Regions from separate parts of the Homo sapiens genome. Here region 1 is linked to region 2. The links come from fine-mapping of genetic effects on gene expression. Tissue or cell type: whole blood. Region 2 holds a variant in brackets; the other region holds the start of a gene. All regions are shown on one strand. Distances are from middle to middle.

Evidence for each region.
Region 1: it holds the start of CLIP4, and the variant in region 2 is fine-mapped to the expression of CLIP4 in whole blood (TOPMed, PIP 0.98).

What each region holds. Positions count from the first base shown.
Region 1 is chr2:29,112,666-29,118,040 of GRCh38, reverse strand. It overlaps CLIP4 (CAP-Gly domain containing linker protein family member 4), which reads right to left and starts at 2,626. Exons shown (of 16, transcript NM_024692.6): 1 at 2,376-2,626. It overlaps LOC105374386 (a long non-coding RNA gene), which reads left to right and starts at 3,297. Exons shown (of 3, transcript XR_007086265.1): 1 at 3,297-3,372. RefSeq lists silencers at 1,976-2,215, 2,406-2,765.
Region 2 is chr2:29,078,421-29,083,795 of GRCh38, reverse strand. No RefSeq gene overlaps it. Among named protein-coding and RNA genes, the nearest start is that of PCARE, 6.6 kb to the right of the region's middle. RefSeq lists enhancers at 572-811, 2,582-3,082. The variant C/T (reference allele first, on the strand shown) is at 2,392.

The DNA of each region.
Region 1 (5,375 bases), 34 kb before region 2:
TGATCCTTTTATTTGCTACCTACATAACATCTGTACAATCTACTAAACAGGTATTTACAGTACTGAACACTTAGTTGGCCTTAGAGAGAATTAAAAATTGAAATACCTGCCCTGAAAAAGCTATTTATGCATTTAACAAATATTTATTCAGTTTTTCTTACTAAGTTCTAAGCTATGCAAAGGTAAAGAAACCAGATCTGTCCTTGCCCTCATATAAATTACAGCCTAGTGTTGATTCCTACCAGAAAGTTGAAAGTAGTAAGTGCTATGACCAAGGACAGCTGAGTCCTATGAAAGCACAGATTCAAGAGGGTCAACGAAGGCTTCCTGGAGACTAATAAGTTAAAGCTGTGGCATCTGACCAGCTAACTACTAGCCACATGTGACTATTTAAATTAATTTAAAAATTGGCCAGGTGCAGTGGCTCATGCCTGTAATCCCAACACTTCGGGAGGCCGAGATGGGCAGATCACTTCAGGTCAGGAGTTCGAGACCACCCTGGCCAATATGGTGAAACCCCACAGCAAAAATTAACAGGGTGTGGTAGCAGGCGCCTGTAATCCCAGCTGCTCGAGAGGCTCAGGCAGAACAATCGCTTGAACCTGGGAGGCAGAGATTGCAGTGAGGAGAGATCAGGCCACTGCACTGCAGCCTGGGTGACAGAGCAGAGCGAGACTCCGTCTCAAAAAAAAAAAACAAAAACAAAAAAAAGAGAGAGAGAAAAGGAAAAGAAAAAAAATATTAAAATTTCAGTGCTTCCACTGCTCTAGCCCCATTCAAGTGGTCAAAAGCTATATGTGGCTAGTGCTACCATATTGGGTAATGCAAAAAGAACATGTTTCTGGTCTCCGAAAGCTCTTCTAAACAGCACTGAAGGAAAACAGTGCAGCTCACTCTCCAGATGAGAAAACAATATACAAATGCCTGAAACAAGACACAAATAAAGGTTAACACACTAAAGCAAGCCTATAGCTCCATAGTTCATTATAAATAATTAACAAGGGAGCAGTAAGCCTAAAAGTAACCAGAGTTTGAGGTTTGAACAGGGAGAAAGAGTGAAGTTGATTTTATATAATCTAAAGATCACTAGTTTCAAACACGTGTCAAAATTGGAGTTGTCATAAGCTATGAGAGACAACATAGGTCACTTTTTTAAAAGCCCTTGCTGGTGGGACTGTATGTGGTAAACACAAAATGTCTGAAATGAATCCTACAAATAGAATACCATGGGCTAAATCTTCTACAAAACAGAAGTAAACACATTCCATGCATGGCTAGACTCAATCTTACAGTCCAGATAGACCGTATCAAATGAAAGCATTTAAAAAATGCATCATATTTACGAAAGCAAAATAAGCTGGAACCAGGATGGTTCTCCAACATAAAAACGCAGACCAACTAGACTCCAGCAGGTTCAAGTCTCTGCTTTCCTCCCCAGTTGCTCAATGCCCCGCACCACGTGATCCTGTGCTGTTTAGACGACTCACTTTAAATTGTGCACAAGATTCACAAACAACAAACGTCAAAGTGAAAGTGAAGTACAATTTAAGTGCTGGCGGATGTTCCTGAGGAAGGTGTTTACTGAAACCTTTCAAAGGCGCCCGTTTTATACGATGATGGTGCTACAATATGAACGCAGTCTAGTATCTCAGAACATACAGCAAGTTATTGTCCCATAGGAACATCATCCTCTGATACGTATCAAAACACTGTCTCAGCACAGAGCTGAAAACCAGAGTCTGGATGACGTGAACAGCCTGACATCTAATTCAAAGCTCTACCATCATAAGCAGTGAATGGGATCCTTAAGGATGCGGGCTCAGCTCCAGCGCTCCTTTCAACTTCCCCTCCCAGGTGCGGATGGTTCAGAATTAAGGGATCTCAGGTAGCCAAGGACTGCAAGGACAGCCATTTGGTTTAGCTTTGAAGACCCACTGGCCAAAGGTTTCTCGACAATTTAATGCGCAAGGGGAGTCAAGTGAGAAATGGGAAGAGGCCGCGTTGGAAAGCCACTGCGCGTGCGGGGACTCTCGGGGCAGCCGCGGCTGGCGGTCGTGGCCCAGAGCCCAGCTCCGCCGCCGGGTCCCGCACACCCCGCGCCCCTCAACCTAAAGTTGGGCCGTCCGTCAGCGGCCGCCACGAGGAGTCCCCATCCCCGCCGGGTGGGCCGCTCCGCCCCGAGAAGGCCTCCCCGCGGCCAGCGACACCGGTGCCCACGGGAGGCGGCCGCGGGGCTTCCACAGCCCCCAGCGCCTCTGCGCGACCCTCCCGGGGCCACTGACCTCCCCGCGGGCCCCCAGGGCCGCCCACCCCGGCCCCAACCCCGCCGCCGGCCAGCCCGCGGCCCGGGGGGGCCCCGCGCGCCCCCGGCCCACCTGCCTCCTCCGGGTCCTCTCGGAGCGGCCGGCTGGGGACGCGGGGGCGCGGAGGAAAGGCCGAGAGGCGCGCTCCCGCCGGCGCTGTCTCCCGTGGCCGCCCACGGAGCCTCCCGCCGCGCCGCTCCACACCTCTCCGGGCCCCTCCCGCTGCCTCCCACGCGGGGTGGGCGCGCGCGCAGTGCAGGCGGCCGGGCGGCGCGCAGGCCTCGGCCACGGCCCCGCGCACGCGCTGGGGACTCGGTGGGGACGGAGGAGGCAGCGCGCGCCTGCGCTGGCTCGCCTGGCTCCCGCGCCCCCGCACTCCCCAGCAGTCAGATGATCGGGCGCACGCGGGGCCGCGACCCCGGCTGACAGCGTCTGCGGGGTGTCGCAGTGTTACCTCCCCCGCCGCGAAGCCAGGCGGCCCCGGCACGCCGTGCGTGCCCACCGCCTTCACAGCCCTCAGCCTCGCGGCCTCACGTCTCTAACCTGCGGCGCCCCCACCAGCTGCTGGGGCCGGGGACCTAGTCTTACCCGTCTTGGGCTCCCCAGAGTCCAGCCGAGCGTGGTCAAGAGTACATCCACCAGTTCCCTGCTGGCAGCGCTTGCTGTAAAAGGCCTAATCCGTGCTACACCCACGTTGAGCAATTAGTTCATATCTCCTGCGGCTTTGCTGCCTCTTCACCCACGTTTTCTCCTGACCCCTTCTCCGTCTCCCAAGGACCAGACAGGGTGAAACTGTGCACCTAAAGTCGTGAACTCTGACAGCCTGACTCTCTGTCATCTGGTAACAAGAAAGCGTTACTGGACACATAGTGAGTCCCCTTAATGAGGAGACCTAGTAAGACCATGACCGAAGTTTGAAACATGGAGACAACAGTGTTACATCTATCAGCTGTCTCTGAGGCCTACAGCGGCTGCTTCATAGAGGCTGTACTTCTGTGTTCAGCGCGCACAGTGCCTGGCAGGAACAGATGTTGAATGAACGTCTGTCAGTGTCTCTGCAAGAGCAGAGGTAAGCGCTCACCGCACCCCGGAGCATCTTTTCCTGTTAGAATCATTGATTTCAGGGACTGGAAAAAGCCCCCTTCCCACTTGCCTGAATCCTCCTTACAGTGTCTTCCCACCAAGCAGTGGTTGAACACCTCCACTAACAAGGAACTCATTACCTTTTAAGGCAGCCATTTAATCTTTGATCAGCCTTTTGGAAATTTTCTACCTTAGGAGCTAAAATCCAGCTCCCTGCATCTCTCCCTCACTGGATTTTGTTTCTGCCCTGGGGACTCTTAAGTCTGACTCCAATTCATCCAAGACACACATTACCTGTCCCTTAGGCTACTCCTGATATGACCTGGTCACAATCCCACTCACCAGCATGTTGAGGGATTCTCTTGGATGCATTCCAGCTTGTCCAGAGCTCTCTTAAATGTGATTATCAGGAATGAGTGGGTGGCCTGCCAAGTGCGGAGAGGAAAGAGACTGCCACCTCTTCTTAGGTCCTATGCTTAACAACATTCACCATATCAAAATAGTTGCTAGGAGCAGTCACATCACATTGTTGAATCGGGTGGAGCACACTTGACTAAAACCCACAATATTTGAATACATGACCATCCCTGACCCTGGTCAGCTGCCAGTTTCTCTGTCTCTGCAGGCTCAGCATCTGCGAGTGCTCTCAGAGATAATGTGACACGGATACTTCCTCCTCCCTCTGAAGAGTCCACCTCCCTTTCCCTGCTTTCATCATACCCTCTTCTTGTCTGACCCACCCATCTCTTTAGCTGGTTAAAAGAAGGAAGGCAATCTGCCCTTGGTTGGCTTCAAGCACCTATAAATGAGGCCAATTGTCATTGAACCACAGAAAGTCATAAAGATCTGTGTGTAACAGAGTAGCTATTGGTGAAGTTTCCAAACGTATACAGTTCACTTTTATTGCTGATTTAAATTATCCATCTGAAATACCACTATTAGTAGGTGACAAGGCATGGCTAGCTCAGTTGTTCTTAGTTATAATAAAGATCTCTGTTAGAACCAGCCAGGCCACTGGCTTTATCTGCTACACCCAAACACTGTATGATACATAGGCAAATTCCCAGGATACCAAGCCACCAGAGTCTCCCACTCACTTAGTTGCCTTTGTTCAAAAATCTGACGTTACTTCTTTATACCATCATCAAGAATGCAAGTGCTCGTTGGAGTCATGCTTCCTAGAATACCTCGTGACATACAAGCTTTAGAACCAGGTATTGCCCAGTTAACCAGAGTGAGACTGGACAATGATATGTGGCCAGAACTTGGAACTTGAACTATTCATTGGGGTGGGAAGGCACATGGGGATGTGGACCAACTGTAGCTGCTGAGATTCAATTCTATCTGGAGACACAAAGTTCCTGAAAAGTATAGCAATAATCCACAGCGTCAGGAGGTGATCAACTTACTGGTCAACATCACAGTGTGGAGAAAGGGCATTACTCACTGACCACTGTAAGGCACTTGACCTATGGAAATCTTGTCTTCACTTTACAAATGAAGAAGCAGACTCTGGGAGGCTGCGTGACTTGCTCCATGTAGCCAGGGGCAGAAATAAGATTCAAACCTAAGTCTGTCTGATCTGAAGGCCTATGTTGATTCACTACTTTGCTAACCTACACAGGCTGTCTTTGGGGGCATTAAAGACCCAGAATGGCTGCATAGAGCAGCATTCAGGAATTCAGACACTCGGCAGCAGGAAGATCTGTCAGCAGCTCTCAGGACCCCGACCATGATAAAAGGGTTAGAGGAAATAGCAAAAGAAGACAAGGTCACTGCTTTTACATGGACTGGATATGGGATGGAATATCATCAGTTTCTAATTTGTGAGTGTATAGGGGGCCTAGGCCCTTAGGACCATGAGAGACACCCAACTGTCAGAATTGGGGCACCAGATTGGAGTTCAACTAGCAGAAGTGCTTAAATGCAAAAGATCAGAGCACTGGGCAGAGCCCCTAATATCTTCCTGTCTGTGATGTTTACAGGTGT
Region 2 (5,375 bases):
AGGCAAAGAACGATAAGGAAAACAATTTGCATTTAAGTCTCATGTTAACATGTTAACGGTGCACTATGTCCAGGTTGATGGTCAGCACTAGAGGTAGACTGGTTCATTATTTTTGATTGCCTGGAGTTGGGCAAATTCTAAAAGTTTCAAGCTATCAAAAGTTAATCATGTGGCGGGGGGGGTGGTGCATGGAGGCTCACGCCTGTAATCCCAACACTTTGGGAGGCCGAGGCAGATGCATCATTTCAGGTCAGGAGTTCGAGACCAGCCTGGCCAACATGGTGAAACCCTATCTCTACTAAAAAGGCAAAAATTAGCTGGGCGGTAGTGGCACACACCTGTAATCCCAGCTATTCGGGAGGCTGAGGCAGGAGAATTGCTTGAGCCTGGCAAGCAGAGGTTGTGGTGAGCTGAGATCGGGTGACTACACTTCAGCCTGGGTGAGAGAGTGAGGCTCTGTCTCAAAAAAAAAAAAAAAGCTAATCATGTGTGAATCCTGCTCAGCAATGAAAACGTCTGAACTAATGATGCATACAGTAACATGAATGACCCTCAGTATAACCATGCTGAGAAAAAGAAACTAAACCAAAAAAATAAATCTGTATGAAATTCAAGGATGGGCACAGTGGCTCATGCCTATATTCCCAACACTTTGGGAGGCCAAGATGGGAGGATCACTAGAGGCCAGGAGTTTGAGACTAGCCTCAACAACATAGCGAGACCCTGTCTCTTTAAAAATTAGCCAGGCATGATGGTGCATGCCTGTGGTCCCAGCTACTCAAGAAGCTGAGGTGAGAGGGTCACTTGAGCCCAGGAAGTCAACACTGCAGTGAGTTGTGATGGCACCACTGCACTCCAGCTTGGATGACAAAGTAAAACCCTTTCTCTACAAAAATAAATTTTTAAATCCCAAACAATGCCAGCTAGTCCATAGTGACAGAAAGATGATCAACAATTGCCTAGGTGGATGAGAAGGGGTATATAGGGAGGGATTACAAAGGGCCATGAGGAAACTTTTGGGACTGTTGGATATGTTTATTATCTTGACTGTGGTGATGGTTTTGAGACAGCCAGGTGGGTGGGGGTCCCTGGAGAAACTCCAACCAGCCTACCCACTGAGGTGGAGCCTCGGGAAGTTCATGCCCTTTGCAGCGGGGAGGAGCCCTGTCCCTCCTCTTCCTGTATGGAACCTGGGATTCGAACGGTGGGTGGGAAGTGCTCTAGCAGGGACTCTGGTCTAGCGAGAGTCTGTTTCCCCCCTTTCTCTCTTTTTACCCAATAAAACCCCATCTTACTCAATGGTCTGCAAGCCTGAATTTTCAAGGCCATAGGACAAAGAACCCCGTCTTTAACTGAACTAAGGAAAAGTCCTGCAAAAGTTTCATGGATGCATGTGTGTGTGTAAACTCATCAAACTGTATATTTTAAATACATGTGTCAGTTATACCTCACTAACAGCACAAAGTAAAAAAAAAAGCTAATGATGTGAGCTGCTCATACAATTATTATTAAACATAGTTTAAATGTGTTCATAATATTGGTTCCCTTTTTCTATTTATTCGCATTTAATGTCAAAACACCAAAGAAGGGTTATTTGATGTACCTCAGGTTAGAGGCATGTTTGTTCTTGGTGTCTTTATTAGTAGTCTATTTTAAATGTTGACATTGTTGTAAATTAGAATCTACAGAGATCAACTCCCTGTTCTGCATAAATGCCAAAAGGATATTAATCTGGTCCAAAGATATGCTCCTTTCACAAGGCCGAAGTATTTTAATCATCACCTCCCTGGGTTATTCTTCAGAGTCAGTCTTGGGTAATTTATCTCCTTTAAATATTATTATGAATACTTATGGGTTTTTTTTAGGGGAGGGGGCCTATTTTTGTCATGGTAATTCTAAATGTATAAATAGAATTTTTTTTTAAGTCATGAGCAAGCAGGAATGAAATTTCCCAGCAATAACATTAAAAAGTTATAAGCAGGGTTATAAGCAGTGGTTGATGTCCCATTCCCCCGTTCAGCACAGACAAACCATCCTTATGGATAAATGTAAAGGGGAACTGAATCTGCTATCTGCTCTTCAGTCTAAGAGCAGACTTTAGACGAAGTTATAATACAATAAAAATTTAAATACTGTAACTTTTTCTGAGAAAAATGCACACAATATTTGAGTTGTCTACAATATTTCAAAGACTCTGAGCTAGTCTGACTCTTGTTGCATAACCCTGGGAAATTGTGAAACTCAGTTCTGACTTATGTCCCACTATGATGAATTCATATGACCCAATGTCTTTCCTCAAATTTGCCACACACACAAATGTCTACTCACAAATTCATAAGCAATAACTAGAGTGAAGAGTCTATTTTGAGAAGTTTGTACAAGTAGCAGCCA[C/T]TATCTTTCCAAAGCCCAGGGTACTGATGGTGGCGGTGGCCTATTTGGAGCAGCTGCTGTGGGGATGCCAGCTGCAGTGGGGAAGGTGAAGCTGGGGCTATGCGTTCCACCGAGCCAGAGGAGGGCAGTAATAGGTGGGAGTCCCGCCCCCTACCGAGTTGGCTGGTCAAGAGCACCTCACTCCCCAGTGCAGCAGCAGCCACATCAACACAGCTCCAGACCCGGGCATCCCTGTACTCTCAGGGGCATGGCTAGCCCCAAGCTCCCACAGGCTTGGAAGTGCCTGCTCCTACTCCCTGGCCTCTCCCAACTCCTGGCACCCGCTCCAATTTCAGAGCCTGAGCCTGGGTGCTGTCATGGCCCGGCTAGGTGTGTACACGCTCAGGGCAGCACTGACATGCCAGACATCCTCCACTGCCTTGGCACCTTCTGAAACTTTGAGCACCAACGAGCTCAGGAAGGGAGGCCAGGAGGGCTGAGGGAGGCTTAACGCAAGCCTGCAGGTGCCCCTTGGTGTGAACAGCCTGGGTGCCATGGAGGTCATGTTGATGGTGGCAGGAGTCAGACAGGTTCCTAGGAGGGAAGGGGTGGGTCCCCAGTGAAGCCCCACTTTCAAACCAGGGACAGCCTGAAGCCTGGGGGCCAGGCTTTCAGTCCCAGGTGGTGTCCATGACCCAGAGCGAAACTTTATGGTGCTTTTTCCAGGCACACCCATGGCCACCCATGGACCAATCATCACACAGTTCCTCCCTTCTGAGCCCATAAAATCCCTGGATTCAGCCACACTTGCATACTGGTCAGGATGACCTGCCTGTGGAAAGGAGCTGCCCACTATGGGTCTCCTCTCCACTGAGACCTGGACACTCATCAGCATGGCCTGCCTGTGGAAACGAGCTACTCACTTCGGGTCTCCTCAGAGCTATTCTGTCATTCAATGAAGCTCCTTACTATCTTGCTCACTCTCCAGTTATCCACGTGCCTCATTCTTCCTGGACATGGGACAAGAACTCAGGACCAGCTGAATGGTGGGACTGAAAGAGCTGTAACACAAACAGGCCTGAAACATGCCCCCCACTCACCACATTGTGAGTGACGAGAAGGAGAGAAGAGCTGCAGCCCTTCTGGGAGCCCAGACCTCAGGGATCCCCAAGTCATGGCTATGACATGCTGTAACTCCCTCTTTGGGGCTTTGTGGTTCCTGGTATCTGACCTTTCTGGTGTTATTGCTTTCCCCTTGTCCACATGCTGGTGCCCACAGCAGAAGCTGCTTGCAGTACGTCTGGTCCAGCTGCAGCCTTGCACAGAGCCGGCACCTGTGCGGGCGCCTGGAGCTGCCTGCCCCACCACAGCCGGCACACCTGGCTGTGTGCAGTGGCTGGACCCTGCACTTGCTCACTCACACACCCTGGCAGGTATGGGATCTGGGCTGAAAGCAGGAGCCACGCGCAACCTGATGGGCCAAGTGAGCAGAAGGAGCCCAGCAGGCATGAGCAAAACTGAAACAGAGGCACTGCTAGCCACAGAGGTTTCCAGCTGGCAAAGCAACACCCTAAGGATCCCATGACAGTACATACATGTAAAAGTAAATACACAAATAAACAACCAGTCAAAAGTCAAGAAATTCGAGTCTGCTCTTATTTCCCTACAGGGAATTAGCAAACCATCCCACAGTTCATAAGGACATTGACACAGTTTTCCCGTAGGTTCTTCTGATAACATGGCTGAGCAGTGGTCTTACAGTTTGGGAAGAATTCTCAATTAATTCCTTCCCTGTGTGCTGTGTTCTGACTCAAAGCCTAGCATTTCTTTCCCCAAGCTATCTTGTCTTCACACCAGAGCTAAGTTCCAGAGGACAGGGACAATCCTCTGTTACAGGTGGAGAGACTCATACCTAGGGGACAAAGGCAAAGATCTGAGGATATTTCACAGGCTTGGGGAGTAGAAGAAAAGGTAGGAATGAAGAAAGGGCCTGTGGACTACATTTCCCAGCCCTTTTTGCATCTAAGTAGGGCCATGTGATAAGTCCTGCCCATCAGAATGTAAGCAGAAATGATGGGTGTCAACTCCATGCAAAGACAGTCAAGGATCTGACCTACCTTCCCCATACTCTCTTCCCTTTCCGCCCTGTAAGTCATGTATTGAAGATGTTCATGTTCCAAGATGGAAGGGCTTAAATCCCTGAGTCACCATGTGGAGTAGGGCTGTTTAAGAGAATGTCCCAACACCTACACTGGCATTGTATAAACAATAATAACTCTTACTGTGCCAAGTCACTGATATTTGGGGATTGTTAGTTACAAAAGTTAGCCTACCCTTTAAAAAAAAAACTCTAATTTATATGTAAGAATTGAATCTATTTCAATAAAACACTTTCTATCATACAAAAAAACTAGATAAATGTTTTTCAAGCTTGTGGTACATTTAGGATACTTTGATTCTAAACATACACTACCTTGTGTACATGAAATTTGCTTTGGAGGATACTTAGAGGCATCTTAAAGGTTTAAAGAGTCAACCTCCAGAGGTACAATGTACCTGTGTGATGACTGATCCAGACCATACGCCATGCACACTAAGATTCAAGAAAAACAGGCAGGTGTTTCTACTATCATCACCAAATCAAAAGCTACTTAGGGCAGACACCTGGATATCACATGTTGGTTTCTGATAGAATTGTGTATCCCACGAGCAACTCTGGATGGATTGCTCTAAGGTATATAACAGTAGCCAGAATGGTTCTTTTAATGATCCTCCAAAGCAAAGCAAGGAAGGCCAGCTTCTGAAAAGATAAATGTAAAGTGAGTGCCTAATGAAGTGCGTGGGACACAAACATGGCCTCCTTCCCCGCCAGCTCACCACAATAGATGCGTGCTTATCTCTCTGTTACCTGTTCATCTCACATCCAGACCAAGGAACTGTGTTGCAAAAAGCACTCCTTCAGATATGGAGGACCAGGTATGTCCTAGGTAGGCCTTGACTAGTGG